Linked DNA regions of Homo sapiens. The protein of the gene in region 3 purifies or fractionates together with the protein of the main gene of each other region. This does not show direct contact. Each region holds a gene or a part of one and is shown on either strand. Other genes may lie near its edges.

The links. The genes of interacting proteins can lie anywhere in the genome.
Region 1: the proteins of TSHZ2 (region 3) and NDUFS4 purify together in Homo sapiens (affinity purification with mass spectrometry; one large-scale study listed by BioGRID and IntAct). This does not show direct contact.
Region 2: the proteins of TSHZ2 (region 3) and PBX1 purify together in Homo sapiens (affinity purification with mass spectrometry; one large-scale study listed by BioGRID and IntAct). This does not show direct contact.

The regions. Positions count from the first base shown.
Region 1 is NC_000005.10:53,602,139-53,605,638, reverse strand, and holds part of NDUFS4 (NADH dehydrogenase [ubiquinone] iron-sulfur protein 4, mitochondrial isoform 1 precursor), read right to left. Parts: intron 2,188-3,500; coding exon 2,109-2,187; intron 916-2,108; exon of another isoform or gene 744-915; intron 1-743. UniProt on the Homo sapiens protein: Accessory subunit of the mitochondrial membrane respiratory chain NADH dehydrogenase (Complex I), that is believed not to be involved in catalysis. Complex I functions in the transfer of electrons from NADH to the respiratory chain.
Region 2 is NC_000001.11:164,810,684-164,814,183, forward strand, and holds part of PBX1 (pre-B-cell leukemia transcription factor 1), read left to right. Parts: intron 1-1,306; coding exon 1,307-1,466; intron 1,467-3,500. UniProt on the Homo sapiens protein: Transcription factor which binds the DNA sequence 5'-TGATTGAT-3' as part of a heterodimer with HOX proteins such as HOXA1, HOXA5, HOXB7 and HOXB8. Binds to the DNA sequence 5'-TGATTGAC-3' in complex with a nuclear factor which is not a class I HOX protein.
Region 3 is NC_000020.11:53,255,358-53,258,857, forward strand, and holds part of TSHZ2 (teashirt homolog 2), read left to right. Parts: coding exon 1-1,206; 3' UTR 1,207-1,214; intron 1,215-3,500. UniProt on the Homo sapiens protein: Probable transcriptional regulator involved in developmental processes. May act as a transcriptional repressor.

The DNA.
Region 1 (3,500 bases), on a different chromosome or scaffold from region 3:
CCTTACAGGTACTGAGGGACAACTATTACTTCAAGAAAGGTATAACAAAGCTGGGGAAAATCTAGGTAGGGCAAGAAAATTCAACAGTATGCAACCGATTTTATGACATATAATTAAAAATACCAAACCAATCCAGTCTGTCTACCTCTCTTGTATGCTTCATAGCACTCTGTTTAGGGCAATGTATTACTGGCTGACTCACTCATTCTTCAAACTAGAAAGAAGAGAACTTAGAAGAGTTATTAGTGAACTCTAAAATTTGAAAACTTTATAGAAAAGGCAACCTCCTGAGAGTTAAAAAAAGATGCTCATAGGAAAAATTAAAATAATAGTGCTCTCATTAATGAACACACAGGATGTGAAAATCATCCTCACTTCATACACACATAACTGCCTCATTTCTTTTGTTTTGTTTTTCAGACTGAGTTTCACTCTTGTTGCCCAGGCTGGAGAGTAATGGTGCGATCTCGGCTCCCTGCAACCTCCACCTCCCAGGTTCAAGCGATTCTCCTGCCTCAGCCTCCTGAGTAGCTGAGATTACAGGCACCCGCCACCACGCCCAGCTAATTTTTTGTATTTTTAGTAGAGACGGGGTATCACCATGTTGGTCAAGCTGGTCACGAACTCCTGACCTCGTGATCCACCCGCCTCAGCCTCCCAAAGTGCTGGGATTACAGGCATGAGCCACCATGCCCTGCCCCTCATTTCTTTTATACTTGACTAAGCAAGTGGTGTTTGATTACCATTTGAAGAATAGGTAGATGGTGACCGGATGAAGTCCTCAGGATTAGTTAAAATGCATCCAGGTAGAGTGAACAGGAACTCCAAATGCCTTGAAGCAGGAAAAAGAGTAGCAAGTTCCAGGCTTGGTGTGGCTAGACCACAGAATGTAAAACACAGTGGTACAAGATAAACCTAGAGAGGAAGGCAGGAGCTAAATCAGGCAAGACGTCAAAGACCATGTTAGGATTTTAGTGTTTACTCTAAGGGCAACAGGAAGCACCAAAGGACGAAAAGAGGGTGACAATACCAGCATTTCAAAGACTATTTTGGCATCCTAAGGAAAATTAATCAGATTAGGATTAAAGAGTCTAGGGAGATCAGGTCAAAGACTACTGTAGAAATCTAGGTGAAAGATGATGTAACCTAGATCAGGATGATGACAATGTCAGTAGGTAAACTGAAGAGATAATTTTAAAATAAAACCAGTCAGCACAAGATGTGAATTTTCCAAACTGTCTCTATTTACTTATACATTTATTTGTCTGTATCTTTAATGGTGCAAATAGAAATTTAAGTGTGACCTATTACTTAGATTGGGCTTACAGGCTCAAAGTTGAGTGATAAAATACTGTACAATAATAAAGGGGGTAGTTAAGAAACACTGATAATGGTAAACCAGATATAAAATGAAAAGCACACATATACAATTACTCATTTCTATCAGAAGTTTTGGAAACATTACAAAATGTATGCTATTGAAGCATAAATATAAAGTTGCATGTAAAGTAACAGACCACACTCTAAAATATTTTATAAGTGATGGCTGCCAAAATTCTGTTTGTTACTGATTCACAAAACATTATTACTCATTTGTTGCTGGTCTTGCTAGTTGTTTGCTAGTTGCTTGCTAGTTATTTCTTCATACATATGAAGAAATAAAATGTGTGTGTATGTGTTTGTATGCATATACATATATACATATAGTGATAATAAATGTTGCATGCTTCCAAGAAAACCTAATATATTTAGTTTTAGATAGTACTAGCAAGTATCTCACAACTTAAATAGGAGTGTAACTGAGAAAATAAAAAGCAAAACATTCATTACAAAAAGTAATGAATGTTCTGCTAGTTATAAACACCACAAAAATGAAAACCTTTCATAATTTTAATTTATTAATATTTGCATATGGTTTTGTATTTGTTTATAATGCTTAATATAAATTATCTTTTGATGACAAATATTTCTTCTTAAAATTTAGGTATAATCTAGAAATTCAAATTCAAATCACTTTCCTGAAAACCTGGAACACCATACTGAATATCTATAGTACAAAAATAACCCTGAAGGCAGAACCATAGCAGTGTGTAGTAGAAAATCCTTACCAATTTTTCATCAACTGTTATGAGTTGTGTGTCTTGAGTCTGGTCCTGTGCCAATCTCCATGTGGAAGTCCTCAACGACCTGCAGTGCAAGACTTTAAGTTAAAAAAGGATCCAGGCAATGAGAGGAGAGACAGACAAATCTTACATAAACAAGCTACTTTAACAATATCTGTCTTATTAAAAAAAAAAAAAAAGGAAAGGAAAGAAAGAGAAGAGGGCACAAAAGTCCTTTTTCTCTGCAATTAGTTCTGTCTGCTGAGTTTTTGGCAGACTCACTTGACAGTTCACAACAGGCTGCGCTTTACGTCAGTCTTCAGGCTCTCTGTCACAGAAAGGCCACCAGTGACAAGTACTGTACTGCTGTCTATGAGTGTACAGTGGCTGATTTGTCACGACCAGCCAGAAACATGCAAAGCTATACCAATTGTTCTGGAACACTGATTCTTAAACGGATGGCATCAGAAACGAAAAGAAAAAAATCCCAATCATAATAAAAAGTTTATTCACTCTAATTTCACACCAAAAGTATTTTACATAGGAATGATTTGTATAACTAATGTTATTAGTTTAGTCCTGTAGCCCATTCACAAAATGGGAGAAATAAAATTAGTTAAAATGAAAATATTAAGTTAGACGTAAAATGGGCAGAGAATCTAGCCCCTTTATATTAGCATTTTCCTACTCTCACTCCAATTACTTAACGTTAACGGACGTTTCATGTACACTTTGTTGTTTATACTACTGAATGTCATACATATCCCTGACTGTGCTGTGACATTTTAGCATCTTAAGAGTTTTCCAAACTATTAGGCTATCTGACATAGATTTCTATTGCAAAAGTAAGTATACACAACTGTGGCTCAAATTTCCACCCCAAATATATGGCATTTGGTCCTTTCTTTTTTTTAATACAATATATTCACTACCATAGTTTTAATGCAACATAATAACCAATAATTGACAAAAATAACTGATACAAATAGTTGAACTTTTTGTGCTAAAAGTTCAATTTTGATAATGTGTACACAGCCATATAGAAAACCTTCTTAATTATAATTTAAAGATAACATAATACAAGAGGTTTTACTGCTTTATGAATATACTTTAAAATATCTGTCAATTATTTACCAAATTTAAGGTATTATGTAATTCTTTATCACTGTAAATGCCCCACTCAGAAATATACCTACACAAAATGTACTAACATGGAAATAACTCTAGATGATTTACACAAAGTTAAAATACATGTCCTGGTTGTTATATTAAAGAAGTATAATTAAGCAACTCTTAATACCTATTTTATTTTGGAAATCATTAAGGTCAGTAACATGGCAATTAAAAAATTTAAATACTTTTAAACAAATCCACATATTACAAGAAAAACATTGGGTA
Region 2 (3,500 bases), on a different chromosome or scaffold from region 3:
AAAACATAAATTTCAAAGTGAAACTAGATATGCAGTGATCCTGAAATACACCCAAAAGTGTCCTTCCTCCTCCAGTTTACCTCTTTTTCTGTAGACATCAGTGTTTACAATAAATAAAGCATTTTCTTATTGAATTTTTTTCTTTTTTGTTTAATATTGTGGTGGTACAGACTGATTTTTTTTTAAAAAAGAAAGGCTTGGCATTTCTGCTGTAGTATAAACTGTATAAGCCTTTCAGTGCTATCCTTATAAGATGTTTTAAGTTTGTTAATGCGTTTAAAAAATTAAGTATAGTTTTGCAACAGTTTTCTTTATCTGCCGTCGTTGGGAGTTAAATATCAATGATATGTAAGCTGTGGTACATGTGGGATCAACTCCCCCTTCCCTCACCAGATTCATAGTTTGTTTTGTAATTATATAAAAACATCGACATTTTAGTTCAAAATCATATCTGGAATGTGGGATATAAAACTTTCCTTCCCCGGGCAGGAATTATGGGGGTAAAACTTGAATTTAACTGTGTCTCCACTTGTGTCTGGCAGAGGTCTTGGTATGAAGGGAGCAGAGGTACCAGATCAAGCCAAGACACCTGCTGCGAACCACATGAAGGAAATAAATTAACAAATGAAAGTAAATTAGGTTTATTGTGTCTGCTGGCTTTAACATTTAAACCCTAGAATTCAAGGGGATAATCATTTGTATGCTACAGTTTTTCCTTATGTAGATAACACTAAGCTTTACACAAAATAGTCAGTGAAATCTGGTAGATTGAATTATATTGATCCTAAGGTCTATAGTGAAATACAGCTAAGAATCTCAGTCCACATTAAAGTTATGTAACTTCTAAAAATTTGCAATTAATCTATCACACGAAAGCACCTATATGGACATTTAAAGATCTGTGTATCTTGATGGCATCAAGCCAGCTTTCACATTGATAAACGCTAGGGGCATTTCTCCTGAAATGTTAGGTATATTTTAGTGTCATAACTGAAGATGTAAGCAAATTTAAAATGCTTGCTCTAAATTAAAAGGGTTCTAGCTTAAATGAGCAGCTCCTTTATAGGAAGATTTTTGTCACAGTGGTTTCGCTAAATTTCAGTTATATTAAACAAGAGAATCGCATTTTATGTAGTTGTCCTTTTGAAGCTCTTACTTCAGATCTTTTTACTGATGTTGCCAAATTATTATAGGATAAGACCAATTAGCTTACCTCTTCACCTCTCCCATAAAGCCTTTTTTTTCTTCTGCAATGTTTCTGAAGGATGAAATGTGAACTTTCTCATCTTCTCTTAAACTACTCTAGGTATCAAACTGGTTTGGAAATAAGCGAATCCGGTACAAGAAGAACATAGGTAAATTTCAAGAGGAAGCCAATATTTATGCTGCCAAAACAGCTGTCACTGCTACCAATGTGTCAGCCCATGGAAGCCAAGCTAACTCGCCCTCAACTCCCAACTCGGCTGGTTAGTTTTTTCTTTGATTGGGGGTGGGGGAAGGAATTGTTCTCCATTTTTATACTGGCTGTTCCTACATTGGGATTTTCTTTTAATTTGTTAGGCTTTTGATTGGTTAATTTCTGTATTTGATTGTATTTTTGGATGTTAATGTCACTTTGGGCTCTTTCTTTCATTTCCAAAGAGCAATCTGTTAGACTTTTTACAACGTGGGTTGTCTGGAGGTTTGCATTAATTTGTCTATTAAGTTAAGACCAAAGTAAATTGGTTAGCTTGAAGAGACCTCTAAATTCTCCTCTCAGGGATATCAATAAGTAAGTTAGACATAGTGCTTAGAGATAGTCTATTGGGATTCTGTCATTTGGCCTGTTTTATATAAAGCTTTTATCCTTGTCAGTTTTGCTGTTCCAACAACATAATGTCTGGGTCACTTATTAGCATGCATTCTATGCAGAAATATTTACTCTTCTAGCAAATATCTTATTAGAATGCTTTGGTATGCAAAGCCAGGCTATGAATATTTCTATATATTGTTTATAGTTGTTGTTCTTTATTGTTTTTTGTTGGTCTTCTTTATGATTATCGGTCATGAGCTATGTAATAGGCTTTGTTTCAGGAAATATGCATTATATCACTAATTTAAGAGTTTAGGTCAAAATACTATATTTTGGGGTGTGCCTTGTGTCATCAGTTCAGAATTTCTACATGTGAAAAAATGTAGTTAATAATGCAAAAAATATAACCTTTGTGTTTGTATGCTATGGAAGGCATGTGGTAATTTTTTTTTCCCTTTGGTAAAGGAAAGACAAGTATTTTCTCATTAAATAAGTTTGGTTTGACTTTGATTAGGGTGCACAGCTAAGAAAACTGATGATTCTAACTTAAAAGGTTACCAATTTAAATATGTTTGATCGTAATATGATTACAAACCTAATGTCTAACATTTTTTAGAGTATGTGGTATCTTTGACCACAAAGCTTGTTTGTCCACTAAAATAAGTTTTCTTACAGCGACTCGTTACTGGAGAAATGTAGGGTTCCACAGACTGATGTCTTCTGTGAGCTTCCAGATGCATAAATTTGTTATGATAAGGTCCTCCAAGTCACTGGGCTATACCCAGCACTTCTTTTGTGGCCTTCTTTTATCTAAATGGAATCATGCATGAAGAGTAGCCTGGGCTTTTTCAACATGGATATAATAAAACAATGTAGAATTCAATCCAGTTTTAATTTTCCCAGCACTGCAGGTTAGATTCCTATGAGGAGCATATTTACTTTTTTAGAAATATTTTGTTTTTTTCTTCCTCCATCATGGTGTGATTGACAAGGGATCAAAGCTAACAGGTTCAATAACCAGAGAGAGTTCCATCTTCTCCATCTGGTCAATTATTAAGAATTTCAGACCCAACAACACCAGTTGAACTGTGCTGCTAGGCAGACATTTTCACTTGTCTCTTTGGAAGAAGTACAATTCTGTCAACATTAGCAAAAATGCACTCAACACTCCTGCAAAGGTTATCATAATGCAAAACGATATCAAAATGACTTTTTCCTGTCCCTGGTATATCTGCATCGCAGATGGCTTAGCATGATTTATGACTAGTCCTTAGAAAAGCCCTGTGGACTTTCTTCATTACTAAATTTGTAACTATTTATTCTTTCCTAAAGCCCTTAAAAGAGAAAAATAAGCATTTTAACCCTCTATTCTGTGTTTAAGAAATATGGTTGCCTCTTATGGAATGTCAGACTATGATTACAGTTTTCTAAGGAATTTTTTTCTGGTGGCTTAAACATCATGTGACTATTCTGAGCACAAAGTAAATTATTATGGAAAATTTGAGCTAAGCCTTCCAATTGTGCGTAAGTTGTTGGAAATAATCTGCACAGGAACCCCTTTGTAGTGCTTTTTCTAAAGTAGAGGCAAAAGAAAATACTATTGTATGTGTGCAATAGCATGGAATTTTAAAAGATAAACATTTTAACAGGAAAAGTTATAAATGGGCTTTTCTGTATTTTCTTTTGCTCTTAACCAACCTAAATCATC
Region 3 (3,500 bases):
TTCCGCAAAAGTGAAACACCTCCAGAAGCCAAAAAGACCGAGCTGGGTCCCCTGAAGGAGGAGGAGAAGCTGATGAAAGAGGGCAGCGAGAAGGAGAAACCCCAGCCCCTGGAGCCCACATCTGCTCTGAGCAATGGGTGCGCCCTCGCCAACCACGCCCCGGCCCTGCCATGCATCAACCCACTCAGCGCCCTGCAGTCCGTCCTGAACAATCACTTGGGCAAAGCCACGGAGCCCTTGCGCTCACCTTCCTGCTCCAGCCCAAGTTCAAGCACAATTTCCATGTTCCACAAGTCGAATCTCAATGTCATGGACAAGCCGGTCTTGAGTCCTGCCTCCACAAGGTCAGCCAGCGTGTCCAGGCGCTACCTGTTTGAGAACAGCGATCAGCCCATTGACCTGACCAAGTCCAAAAGCAAGAAAGCCGAGTCCTCGCAAGCACAATCTTGTATGTCCCCACCTCAGAAGCACGCTCTGTCTGACATCGCCGACATGGTCAAAGTCCTCCCCAAAGCCACCACCCCAAAGCCAGCCTCCTCCTCCAGGGTCCCCCCCATGAAGCTGGAAATGGATGTCAGGCGCTTTGAGGATGTCTCCAGTGAAGTCTCAACTTTGCATAAAAGAAAAGGCCGGCAGTCCAACTGGAATCCTCAGCATCTTCTGATTCTACAAGCCCAGTTTGCCTCGAGCCTCTTCCAGACATCAGAGGGCAAATACCTGCTGTCTGATCTGGGCCCACAAGAGCGTATGCAAATCTCTAAGTTTACGGGACTCTCAATGACCACTATCAGTCACTGGCTGGCCAACGTCAAGTACCAGCTTAGGAAAACGGGCGGGACAAAATTTCTGAAAAACATGGACAAAGGCCACCCCATCTTTTATTGCAGTGACTGTGCCTCCCAGTTCAGAACCCCTTCTACCTACATCAGTCACTTAGAATCTCACCTGGGTTTCCAAATGAAGGACATGACCCGCTTGTCAGTGGACCAGCAAAGCAAGGTGGAGCAAGAGATCTCCCGGGTATCGTCGGCTCAGAGGTCTCCAGAAACAATAGCTGCCGAAGAGGACACAGACTCTAAATTCAAGTGTAAGTTGTGCTGTCGGACATTTGTGAGCAAACATGCGGTAAAACTCCACCTAAGCAAAACGCACAGCAAGTCACCCGAACACCATTCACAGTTTGTAACAGACGTGGATGAAGAATAGCTCTGCAGGTATGGGTTTGCTCTGAGGCATTGCGATTAGCCTGGTGAGGAGCTTTCTTACAGGGAGATGGGTCTGCTTAGAGGCAGCTAGCATCTCCCAATGCCAAGCAGGATAGTAGCTTGCTGGAGTAGGATTTATTTTAATGAAAGACCAGAACATGAAAACTAAGTCCTAATCATTCTCTTAAGTCCTCTAGTTTAGAGCTGGGAACTAGAATAAAACGGGTTTAGAGAGATAAAGTTCACAGATTACTACTGCTTTTTTTAGGCCTTCATCATCCATAATCCTGAATTACCCAAGGCAAGCTCCAGTGTCCAGCCAAGGCTATCTTTCATTTTAATTATTAGATACTAACTTCTGTCACCATTCCATTTCACCACCCCACCTTTCCATAGCAATGCCAATGACTTATAAAGTGACAAAAAGTTGAGCAATGGAAGAAAGATTGGAGAGTGCTAGAAGTAGTTACTATATAGAGATTCCTTAATCAGCTCATGAATAGCTTAAAGTTGTCTTTATGATTGTTACTTGTAATGAATGCTTTTTTGCAGCTTACTTTTAGTAATTGCCACCTTCCACCTCTTCCCTTTGGTTATTTTCTACATTAAGTGTCCTATGAATGAGCATGTGCCCTTAACAGGTTGGTAGAAAAATATTCTTCTTTGCAGAACATTGAGATGAAAAGAAGCTTATTTTCTTCTTTCATCTTTTGGTTTTCTTGTGGATAGACCAGTATTAGAGCCCACCTTTAACAAAGATAGAGGCAATGTGTGCCCTTGAGGTTTCATTTCACATAAAGAAACAAATGGCTTTCTGTACACTTATGTTAATGTGCATGGAGTCCCATAGCTTGAAGATAATGTGCATCATGTGTCATAGAAGTTCCATGCCTTATATAGTCAACCATGCCCAGACCATTTGTGTCATTTTTAGGAAACAGGGCAGAGACCAAGGTCAAATGCTTTGGCAGATTAGTTTCACCAGCCATTTTCAAATGTTGAGGATAAGCAAGGCTGGGTCTTAACCAATCTCTTTCATTTGCCCATTTGTGTTTTCTCTACTTCTTTTTCTCTCCCTTCCAGCATGATGCCCGCATACACTAAGGGCCCTCCTATGTGTTCAGGTGGTCCTCCACCTTCGGCCATTCCCCAAGATGGGAACCCAACCTGAACTAAACCTTCTGTGCTGACCAATCCAGTTGACGTCATGTTAAGTTACGGATTTGCTCCTAGTTAATTAGCTCTTAATTCACGATCGAATATGAAAAACTAATAACATATAATCGCTCACCACACCCTATTGTCAGAGCATTGGTTTACAAATAGAAGACTTTCAGAACAAGCTAGAAAGGTAGGACACTAGGAGAGTTCCAGGTAGAGAGCGGTATTTACATGGCATGGCTTTGGGCTTGCCTCACATCAGACAGAGGGGTTTACTGGGTGTGAAGATGGCCAAGATGAAATAAAAAGTTAAAATATCTGACCTGGGACTTTCCCCTGAGTGAGGCGATCTACGCTTCTGATGGAGAGGAGTCCTCCTATAACTCTAATTGCTATCTAGACCCAAATGAAGACTATCTTTTTGGTTTGCATGTTTTTATCATGATGATTGAATGTGTTATTGGCAGATTCTTCTCATTCTTTCCAAGCATGATTTGTTCAGCTCACGGAATTGAAAGAAAAGCCAAAATGCATCCATTGAATTCACACCTGAGCTTGGGGTTCAACAGCGTCCTATTTATTTGCTGCATAACATTTTAAATCTTAAATAACTTGCCATTATGTTTTCCTGGTTCTTAAAAAAAAAGAGGGGGGGCATACAGAGAATACTTAGAGAGAAGAAAGATATTTCAAATCCAATAGTGGTGGGTTGAAACCATGGTGAAGAGGACAAATAGGTAATATTTATTTGTACTATAACAAAGACCACTTTTCCACCTGTTAGGTTTGTAATCTTTTTTAGAAAATTAATATAATTGCCAAAACACTCTGATATGTAGATAGGGAGAGGTAAGGAAAAGAAAGCTTGATCCATCGTCAGTCAGAATCTGGAGTGTATGATACCTGTTCTAGGGATTCAAAGGTGAACCAATAATTTGGAAAAACATATACAAAAGGTACTTCCAAATCCATTAAATACATAGATAAGATAGCCATTTTGGCACTTCTCTGCATTTGTACAGGATGAGTATATCTAATTTGGACCTCGAAAGCACCGTATTGGTGTTTTCATTATACAAAACCAAAGCTCCATCCTTACAAGCACCATTAGGCTGTGGTTCTGAGAGGATTGCA